Regions from separate parts of the Homo sapiens genome. Here all the other regions are linked to region 4. The links come from fine-mapping of genetic effects on gene expression. A gene starts in region 4. Each other region holds a variant in brackets. All regions are shown on one strand. Distances are between the middles of the regions. Region 1 overlaps SH3BGRL2 (SH3 domain binding glutamate rich protein like 2). Region 2 has its middle 33 kb from the start of SH3BGRL2. Region 3 has its middle 43 kb from the start of SH3BGRL2. Region 4 holds the start of SH3BGRL2 (SH3 domain binding glutamate rich protein like 2).

Region 1 (2,689 bases), 72 kb before region 4:
AAATAGCACACAAGAAAAAAATATATATATGTATTTAACTTTATTTTCTCCAAATAGAATAAAGATTCACATGCTTAGCATATTTCTGGAAATGGCCTCAGAAAAGTTTTCTACTCTAAATCTGGTTTCTCTTCACTTTAATGATTAAATAAATGTCGACCAATTAAATATTAAATATAAAGAAACTTTAAAAATTAATCATTAAAACACAACTCAATAGGAAGAAAGGCAAAAGACATGAAGAGGGATTGCCAAGAAAAAGAAACAAGAATTCCCATAATAAAACATGTTCAACTTACTAATAATCAAAAATTTACAAAATGAAACCACAATGAGGTAACATTTTATACTCCCCAGCTTGGCAAAAATGCAACTCTGACAATCTCAAACATTGGCAAAGATTTAGAGTCCTGCAAATTCTAGTATACTGGTGGGGAGCATAAATTAGTACTCTGGAAAGCAATTTGGCCTTATCTATTAAAACTGATGATGTGCTTTTATTGTATAAACCAGCAATTCTATTCAAGGTATACATCCATTCTTCAGTATGTACACCAGAAGTCACATAAAAGAATATTCAGAGCAACATTACCTTTTTCTATTTCAAACAAAGATGCAGTTCAATAAGCACCAGCTGGAGAAGAGAACATGTGATATATTCATAATGGAATAATATTTAGCAGTGAAAAAACTCCGATGGCAATGAACATAAAAAGGAGGTGACAGAAGAATACATTCAGTTTAATTCCATTTATTATTCTTTAAGGATACATACATGGAGATAAAGTGATGAAAGACAAGAAGGCTATGGTCAACACAAAGTTCAGTACAGGGGTTCCCTCTATCAGACAGGGATAGAGATAGGTTCAGGAAACCGCACACGGTACCTCAAAGGAAAGGCAATAAGGTGGGTGGTAGGCACACAGGGGTTTGTTTATTGTCATTATTATTACTCTTTATACTTTAGCATATATATTATATGTGTATATACATATCTATATTCCATTGCATGTATGAAATTTTTTAAAAATTCAAATGGCTTATAACAAAAACAAATTATGTATAATGTCTCAAATGGTGAATCACAGCCTGGAGGCTCTTAATTTACCTCCACTCTATCATTGAACCCTGGCTAAAACTGCTGCTTTGTTTCTATTCCCCTCATACTTGAGAGTAGAGATATTGCCCTGCTCTGACAACACTTACCACATTTTAGGGGCTTGATCCATGCTGACAGAAAGGATGAACAAACAAACCTGACATGTATTTCTAGAAGAACTAGGAAAACTCTGAAGATTTGAATCACAAGTAGGCAGTGATCATTTTGGTTTCACACATTTCTGCAAACCTACAGCTCGTTCCCTCTGATCACTTCCTCCACCCTCCTTCTGTTCTGGTGCGTAGGGCTTGAAATCGTTCAGTGCTGAGATCAACCTCAAACAATGCCTTCAGAAATACTGTTTTCTTCTGCTTTCTGATGTGGCTGCTACAAAGGTAATAGGGGCCGCAGCCACTCTGCCCTTGTCTTCTGCACCCAATTCAGAGAACATGGCCACCAGCCTGTGGCTTCAGTGTACTCAGGAGATCAGTCATCCATTTGAACCACCCCAC[C/T]CCACCCAGGGGCTGAGTGATTTAACTCCATCCTCAGTCCTGATCACTGTCTGAGATGAATCTGTGGTGTCCTCCCAACACCCTCGTGCAGGACCTCATGTCTGGCTCCTTGAATGATCACACGATCTGTTTGTATTTTTACAATTTAATGTGCTGCTTTCATGCATGAGGTTCACAGGCAAGAGTAAAATCACAGCCTCTCAACTAAACAGAACTAAAATTAAGAGAGGTGTGAAAAATGGCAGGGAACAAACACTCCATTTTCAGAATATGTGTTTTCTGGAATTTATTCTCCTTTATGCTGAATATAAAATATGTGATTTCACCAATGCTTTAAGAGACAAACACATACAAGTTGAAATCTGAAAACAATAATTATATGGAGCAAAGTGCAGCCTGACACTTAACAAAAGCTGTTAAATGAAAAGTATCTCTAGAAAAAGCAAAACCCCTATAGTAAAATCAAACACAACAGAAAGAAGCTTTGGTACTTTTCAATAACGGGAGACAAAAAAAAGTTTAGTTTATTATTAAATTCATGTAATATAAAAACATCTATGTGGAGGTATTGAATTAAATCTATAAAACAGAAACAAATCTAGAATATATTAGAATCTGAGGTGAAAAAATACCTTGCTTTCCTCTTCTTTGATTGTAATAAAACACCGGAATTTGGAAAAACAAGTATTTTCCCAACTAAATTTTCTTCTGGTCTGTACTCACCTAGCAGGATGGCACTCCATATTTTATCTAATTTTAAAATGGCATAAGTTGATTTTTAGCAGCACATTTCCTTTGCTCCAGCAAGCCTACTACAGGAAATAAAAATTCTGTCTTGAAATGCCCTTGATATGAAATCTATGCCTACAATTCCCATCCACTTCTTTCCTAGTATTTTAAGACTGTGATTATCAAAATCTAAAGGCAGCTAGTTAAAGAAGGGAACAAGAAAATCATTATTATATGTTTCAAAATCAGCTGATAAAAGAATACAAGTAAGGACCCCATATTCTCTGAGCTAAGTGTGGTCCCAGAGGGCAACATCTTGGTACTCTGTGGAGCCTGGGTACCATGTAAA
Region 2 (2,689 bases), 33 kb after region 4:
GGGTTGTACTCAGTGTTTTGCTGTAATTAAAAGAGCTGGTATAGGGTGGATCACCTGAGGCCAGGAGTTTGAGACCAGCCTGGCCAACATGGTGAAACCACATCTCTACTAAAAATGCAAAAATTAGCCGGGCATGGCAGCAGGCACCTGTAATCCCAGCTACTGGGGAGGCTGAGGCAGTAGAATTGCTTGACCCAGGAGGCGGAGGTTGCAGTGAGCTGATATTGCACCATTGCACTCCAGCCTGGGTGACGAGAGTGAGATTCCATTTCAAAAAAAAAAAAAAAAGATCTGTTATAAATATTATTACATGTCTCTTCATGTTTAGTGCAAGAAAGGGTATTTGCTGGGTCATAGAGTATACAAGTTGTTGCTAAAGTATTTTCCATAGTGGCGATCCAAATTTGCACTTCCCTAAGAAGTGGATGAGAGTTCTCATTGTTCTGTGATCATGCTAACACTTAGTATTTTCCAAAATTTTAATTGTTCCCACCTGCCTACAGTAAAATACTATAACATTGTTTTTAATTTGCATCCATCTGGTATTGAATGAGGTTGAGCACTTTTTTTTTTTTTTTTGAGACAGAGTTTTGCTCTTGTTGCCCAGGCTGGAGTGCAATGGCGCAATCTTGGCTCACTGCAACCTCTGCCTCCCAGGTTCAAGCGATTCTCCTGCCTCAGCCTCCCTAGTAGCTGCAATTACAGGCATGTGCCACCACACCCGGCTAATTTTGTATTTTAGTAGAGACAGGGTTTCTCCATGTTGGTCAGGCTGGTCTTGAACTCCCGACCTCAGGTGATCCGCCCACCTCGGCCTCCCAAAGTGCTGGGATTACACGCATGAGCCACCGCGCCCAGCCGAGGTTGAGCACTTTTTATTTTTTATTTTTTATAACTTCATTAAGATATAATTCGTCTACCTTACAATTCACTCATTTAAAGTATACAGTTCAATGGCTTTTAGTTTATGCAGGCTGTGCAACCATCACAAACAATTTTAGAATATTTTCATCACCCCCAAGAGCAACCCTGTACCCATTAGCAGTTATTTCTCAGTCCCCCTCAAGTTCCTCTGCCCTGATGACTTTATGTCTCTATAGATTACTTACTGTGGACATTTCCTATAGCTGGAATCATACAATATGTGGTTGTTTGTGACTGGCTCCTTCAACTTACCATAAAGTTTTTAAGGTTTATTCATGTTTTAGTGCATACCAGTACTTCCTTCTTCTTTACTGCTGAATAATCTTCCATTGTACGGATATGCCTCATTTTATTTATCCATTCATCATTTGAATGTTATAAAGAAATACAACACATAGATTGTTTCTACTTTTAGCTATAATGAATAATGTTGCCATGAACGTTCATGTACATATTTTTGTGTGGATATATATTTTTATTCCTTCTGGCTATACACTTAGGAGTGGAATTGCTGAGTCATGTCGTGACTCTA[T/C]GTTTAACCTCTTGAGGAACTGCTAGACTATTTTCCAAAGTCGCTGCACCATTTCATATACCCACCAGTGTTGTATGAGGGCTTCACTTTCTCCATATCTTCACCAATTTATCTGTCTTTTGATTATAGTAATTCCATGTGAAGTGATGGCTCAATTTGGTTTTGATTTACATTTCCATTGTGGCTAGTGATGTTGAGTATCCTTTCATGTGATTATGGGCCATTTGTACTTCTTCTTTGGAAATATGCCCATTCAGATCCTTTGCCCACTTTTAAATTGGGTTGTCTCTTTATTGTCAAATAGTAAGAGTTTGTAATATGTCTTACATACACGTCTCATCAGATATAGAATTCACAAACATTTTCTGCCATTTGGTGGGTTGTCTTTTCACTTTCTTGATGGTATTCTTTGAAAGACAAAAGTTTTAAATTTCGAGGATGTCCAATTTATCTCTTCTCTTCTGGTGCTTGTCTTTTTGGTGTCATATCTAAGAAATCATTGCCATGTTCAAAGTCATGAAGATTTTTGCTTATGTTTTCTTTCTAGAATTTTATAATTTCAGCTCTCAGGTTAGATTTATTTTGACTTAAATTTTGTATATAGTGTTAGGTATGAGTCCAACTTCATTCTTCTGCATGTGGATCTCCAGTTGTCTCAGCACCATTTCTTGAAAAGACTATTTTTTTCTCGTTGAATTATCTTAGCACACTTGTTGAAAATCAATTGACCCTAAATGTGAGGACTTATTTCTGGACTCTCAATTCTATCCCACTGATCTATATGTCTTTCTTTTCCTTCCTTCCTTCCTTCCTCCTTCCTTCCCTTCCCTTCCTCCCTTCCTTCCATCCTTCCTCTTTCTTTTCTTTTTTCTTTTCTTTTCTTTTCTCTTTCTTTCTTTTCTCTCTCTTTCTCTCTTTCTTTCTCTCTCTCTCTTTCTTTCCTCTTCCTCTTCTTCTTCTTTCTTCTTTTTTTTTGTTGACAGAGTCTTGCTCTGTGCCCAGGCTGGATTGCAGTGGTGCGATCTTGGCTCATTGCAACCTCCACCTACCTGGTTCAAGCGATTCTTGTGCCTCAGCTTTTTGAGAGGCTGGGATTACAGGTGCCTGCCACCACACTTGGCTAATTTTTGTATTTTTGGTAAAGATGGGGTTTTGCCATGTTGGCCAGGCTGATCTCGAATTCCTGACCTCACTGGATCCACCCGCCTCGGCCTCCCAAAGTCCTGGGATTAC
Region 3 (2,689 bases), 43 kb after region 4:
CATTCATTAGTTTATCTTTTATAGTTTCTCTTTCTGTTTTGGAATCAATTATAGTTGGCCTCTCATAACCACAGATTTCACATCCACAGGTTCAACCAACCATGAATCAAAAAAAAAAAATATATATATATATATAGGATAATTTCACCTGTACTGAACATGTACAGACCTTTTTTCTTGTCATTATTCCCTAAACAATAGAGTAAAACAACTATCTGCATAGCATTTACACTGTATTAGATATTTTAAGTAATCTAGAGATGATTTAAAGTATAGGTTATATGAAAATGCTACATCATTTTATATAAGGAACTTGAATATCCTTGGATTTTGGTATCTGCAGGGGGTCTTGGAACCAACCCCCTAGAGATACTGAGAGATAACTATAATTCTTTTTAAATTCTCAAACATTTCTGAATCCTGTGAGCAGCTAATCAGCCCTGGGCACAATGGCTATATGACTTTGGACATAAGAATTAATACCCAATTGCTTCAGCTGCCAAATTCTGATCCTGGTTCTATCCCAGATATACTCCTGGGAAGTGCTCAGGTTCAATGTCATAATCTTTTCTTTATTTATGATACAGTCACTTTATTAATTGTTGTTAATAATACCTATGTGGAAGCAAAGCATTTGTTCTTTTCTTCATTAAATAATGACATATGATTGATACTTTTATACACTTCAAATAATTAATAAATGGTTAAGGGGATCAGAACATGCCACCTCCAATTATGCCACTTTGGTATATTAGTTATTTTGAGCTGAAGGCAATTGAGAAGCAGCAGATGCAGGAAGGGCTCTCTGACCTTCCCGCTTCTACTTCAAAGCAGGGCATACATTTCCCAGAATAAAAGTGCCTTTCCTGTCCCAGGAAGAGCAGAACATTTTTATCACCTGAGATGGGGAGTTAACAGCAAGATGAATCCATACCAACTTACTAAAATAACCCTTCTCTTCCATTAGTTTCCCCCTATATTTCCTAGTTGCTTTCCCATGATTTACTGCTCTAGCCCAGTTTTTTTTTTTTTTTTTT[A/TTA]GACAGAGTCTTGTTCTGTCACCCAGGCTGGAGTGCAGTGGCACAATCGGCTCACTGCAACCTCTGCCTCCTGGGTTGAAGTGATTCTCCTGCCTCAGCCTCCCGAGTAGCTGGGACTACAGACACGTGCCACCATGCCCAGCTAATTTTTTGTATTTTTAGTAGAGATGGGGTTTCACCATGTTAGCCAGAATGGTCTCAATCTCCTGACCTCGTGATCCACCTGTCTCAGCCTCCCAAAGTGCTGGGATTACAGCCATGAGCCACCGCACCCGGCCAGTAGACGGGGTTTCGCCATGTTGGCCAGGCTTGTCTCAAACTCCTGACCTCAGGTGATCCGCCCGCCTCAGCCTCCCAAAGTGCTGGGATTACAGGCATGAGCCACCACACTCAACCCAAACTTCTTTTTTCTTTGTCTTATTGCAACTCAAAAATTTATCATTCTTTGTTAAAATTGCATATAGGCTCTCAGACCTATCTGCTTCTTTAGGTCTTCATTTCTGATATACAAAGGCCTCTATATATACATAAAAATATTGACATCAAGTAAAATGTGTATGCTTTTCTCTTGTTAATTTATCTTTTGTCAGTTTAATTATCAGACCAGCCATAGAACTTAAGAGGGTAGAAGAAAGTCTTTCCTGCCCTACAATGGTAATATATAATACAACAAATACCCTTTTATTAACACATATTTATCAGCAAATTCTAGAATTTCCTTCCTCCAAAATTTTGGCAGGGTAAATTGTTCTACTTTGTTGAAATTAACATATGCATTAAAAACATATCATTTTTCCTTGTCCCATGCTCATTTTATACTTTCTGTCTTCACTGACCCTTGCAGCCTCATGATTAGGCTTTTTAGTCTCTGGACGTAGGTTCTTGGGGATACCAGAACTCAATGTCCACTGGAGTAACAGCTTCAGGACTGTCATTCTAAGGTCCACAGTTACTTCACATCCTTAGGTTCTCTGTGGTGGCTAGACACCCCTACTTCCTATTTCTGCATTATCTTTTTTTCTAAATATTCTCAAATGAATAACTCCTTTTATACTAAAAATTCTCCAAGTTTTGGAAAAATATAGAGGAAAAAAGTTCTGATTTTATAATTTTCTGCCAGATAAACTCAAAGTTGGGAAGAGATTACTTTAATCATAATACAGTTGAATATGTAGGAAAATGTTAAAGACAGGTAGAAAGTACAATGACAACACACTGGGGGGAGTTCATTCAGCCACCTATGTCAGGACCACCTGGGGGTCTAGATAAAAACGTGTTTTTTGGATTACCCCCCAGAACTGAGTCAGATTAAAGTAACATTTTTAATCCGCTCCCTGGCATTTCTGAAACATTCTATAGTTTGAGAACTGGTAGAACTTGCAGTTATAGACACTATTGGCCCACACAACACCTTTTTTGTCCTGCACCCATTCAGAAGCATAAAACTATTTTTGCATGGACTCTATTCCAAGTCATATTTGCAGTGTGAAGAAGGGTGATGGAAGACAGCAGTTCCTCCCTCTGACCACAAGGGAGAATTTCCTTTTGAGGCTTCCAGGCCACCCTATGATTCCAGAGGATAGGCCTTAGTACAGAAGGGCAGAGAATAGCCAGGCTGTTCATGTGGAAAGAGAAGTGTAATAATTCCATAT
Region 4 (2,689 bases):
ACCAGAAACTGTCAGAAGTCTGAGGACCCCAACATGACTGCACATAAGTGTAAGTTGGATTTTCCCATCTATTGTTTCTAGTGCAAATGGGGGTGGAGGGGCTTTGTATGATCGTGTTGGTTTCTTTTTAAATAAAAAACTTCAGTGGTGTACAAGGATTTTCAAACAATATTTTATTCCATCCTCCACTCCACCCACTTAAGAAACAAATTTTGGAACAATCTGACTGAGCTACTGGGCAGACAATTGACCAGACCAAATTTAAGCAATCTACAATGCACTTTTTGATGTTACTTGATTATATATGTCACAAAGGAGGCTCTTAAATCTATAGCTGAACTCTTGGTTAAGGAAACCAAGTCTCAATAATCATGTAAAACACATGTGCTATGTCCCTTAGTGGGCTGTCAAATATACTAACTACTGAATTTTCCTTAAATTCTGACATCTCTAGCTATTTAACTTTCCTTTCTTTAAAAAAATTTTTTTTCTCTAAAAAAATTCAAGAACATCCACCAAAGAGAATAGCTAAAAATAATTAAATAGAAAACCACAATTCATAGATCCCCAGGATAAAATTTCCACAGCATTACAGGTGGAAAGAAAATGCGTGCATACACACACATTTACATAAAGATGTAAAAATATTTATGGCACCCTAAGAAAAAAAATGACAGTGAAAGCAAACAATCCTACCACAACAGGACAAACCTAGTTTTACTATTCTCTTTGCGCAGGTATAAAACTAAACAAATGCACTTGCTGGCGGGGAAGGGAGGACAGAGAGCAATTCCCACTTAAACTTGCTTCATTCAGGAGCTAGGGTAACAAACCAAAGCAGCAGAAAAGGCTCCCGTGCAAAACATAACCAGTCTGAAGGTCCCAAATCGGGAAGAACTAAACTAGGGGAAGGGGGATCCCCGAAGCTCTTGAACAACCCGTTCCCCAAATTTCCATGCCACACAACAGGAGCTGGGGGCTTCCCTCGGACTCCATTTTCAGGCCGCGTTGTCTGCCTTTCAGGCCACGCAGGGTGGGCATTTGGGTGAGGCCGGGGTCCCCCACCCACCTTTCCTCCCCGCCCTCTTCATTGTTGTCGGAGTGTGATGGATCACCTGCCGGGCGCGGGCTCCCGCGGGCGGACCGGCTGAGCGCAAGGACGCGCAGTGACGAGCGCCGCGCGCCTCCCGCAGGACCCGCGCCCCGCGACCCCAACCTACTGCCCGCCCCCACCGCGCTCACCGCCACGAAGCCCGAGGAAGAGGCGATGAACACGCGGATGACCATCCTCTCGCTGCGCCCGGGACAGACCCCTTGCCCCCCGGGCTCCGGGCTGGCGTGGACGCAGAGCTGAACCCAGCTACGAGCCGCCGGCAGCCTCTGGGTAAAGCGCTGCCGTCGGGGAAGATCGCTGGGATCTGGCTCCCTCCCGGCGGGTCCGCAGATAAAAGCCCAGCGCCGCCCGGCCGCAGGCTGAAGGGGAAGGAGAGGGAGGAGGAGGGAGCCGGCTGCGGGGCTTGATGGGATTTGTAGTTTCCGTCTCTCCCTGGAGTGGCTGGTGGACTGAGCTCCCCTCCTGACCGCGCTTCTATCCCGAACACGCGCAGGTGGCTGGAGGGGAGCCACAGCCCGGGCAGAAGCTGTGAGGTGGGTTGGCAAGGATCCTGGCTTGATGAGGAAAAAGCAAACTAGGCAAAAGGGCTCGGTTCAAAGTCCAAGCTTGGGTTCTGTATTGTGGTTTATTGGTTTGGAGCATCCACACCCAGAAATGCCAACAGACACGATCGTGCTGCGGGCACACATCGTCTCAGGGCCGCTGGCGTACCGGGCAAACCCCAGCTACCTGAAGCAGGCGGGATCGGCGAGCCGGGTGCTTGGGAGGTGTGGGCGGTGGGGTTGGGCTCGTTTGTTTGTCCAGTAGCACTGGAGATTGCAGAAAGGTGATTCTTTTGGGTAAATGAGAGGTCTTCTCTTGTCTGTACACACTGAAAATTAGAAACCCAGATGGAAGCACAACCAATATTTTATTTTTCTCAGCAAAACTGTAATTGTAGTAGAAAAAAATAAATACCAAACGAAATTGGAATCCTTCTATCAACATTGGAAATCAGGACCCTACCTGCCCCACCCCTCCCTACACAATGGCTTCGCCTCTGTGCACCTAATATTTACAGTTCAGCCAAATCTGTGCCTTTTTCAGAACCGCTGCACATTCCAGCGCAGTTTCCCAGGAGGATGCTGTTAAATAAAAAGCTTCTATATAGTTGCTAATAGTTTAGGAATAGTTTTTTATCAAGTGCTTTCTGTTTGACAAAAGCTCAAGCCTCTCTCTCAGTTTTGTCGAAAGGAACCAGTTTTCCCTGCTGTACTGTATTTACTTTTTTCCTTTCAACACGGGAGTTTAGCAGAGGTCTGGGAACAATGTTAATTAAGAAAAAGTAAGAAATTAGATGATGAGGTCTCTGGCTCTTTGATACATTTCTTGCACAAAGAGCAATCATTATGAAGTATTTTTTAGAACAGTTATGAATATTTCAAATTTATAACCTTTCCTATTGCTTTTCTTAAAGCCATTTCTGTAGTAGGAATCTTTTTAAATTTCCTTCAATAATAGAAGAGACACTCCTAATGGGACTTTATTTCTTCTTCGTGTTTAAAATTTTAAATAGAAGTTTTGCTGTCTTTAGTA

The links.
Region 1: its variant is fine-mapped to the expression of SH3BGRL2 in amygdala (GTEx, PIP 0.91).
Region 2: its variant is fine-mapped to the expression of SH3BGRL2 in whole blood (INTERVAL, PIP 0.98).
Region 3: its variant is fine-mapped to the expression of SH3BGRL2 in whole blood (INTERVAL, PIP above 0.99).

What each region holds. Positions count from the first base shown.
Region 1 is chr6:79,701,702-79,704,390 of GRCh38, reverse strand. SH3BGRL2 (SH3 domain binding glutamate rich protein like 2) reads right to left here. Exons shown (of 4, transcript NM_031469.4): 4 at 736-2,689. Among named protein-coding and RNA genes, the nearest start is that of SH3BGRL2, 72 kb to the right of the region's middle. The variant C/T (reference allele first, on the strand shown) is at 1,612.
Region 2 is chr6:79,596,972-79,599,660 of GRCh38, reverse strand. It overlaps a transcript of SH3BGRL2 not described here. Among named protein-coding and RNA genes, the nearest start is that of SH3BGRL2, 33 kb to the left of the region's middle. The variant T/C (reference allele first, on the strand shown) is at 1,457.
Region 3 is chr6:79,586,638-79,589,326 of GRCh38, reverse strand. It overlaps a transcript of SH3BGRL2 not described here. Among named protein-coding and RNA genes, the nearest start is that of SH3BGRL2, 43 kb to the left of the region's middle. The variant A/TTA (reference allele first, on the strand shown) is at 1,038.
Region 4 is chr6:79,630,060-79,632,748 of GRCh38, reverse strand. SH3BGRL2 (SH3 domain binding glutamate rich protein like 2) reads right to left here and starts at 1,420. Exons shown (of 4, transcript NM_031469.4): 1 at 1,243-1,420. The coding sequence starts at 1,287.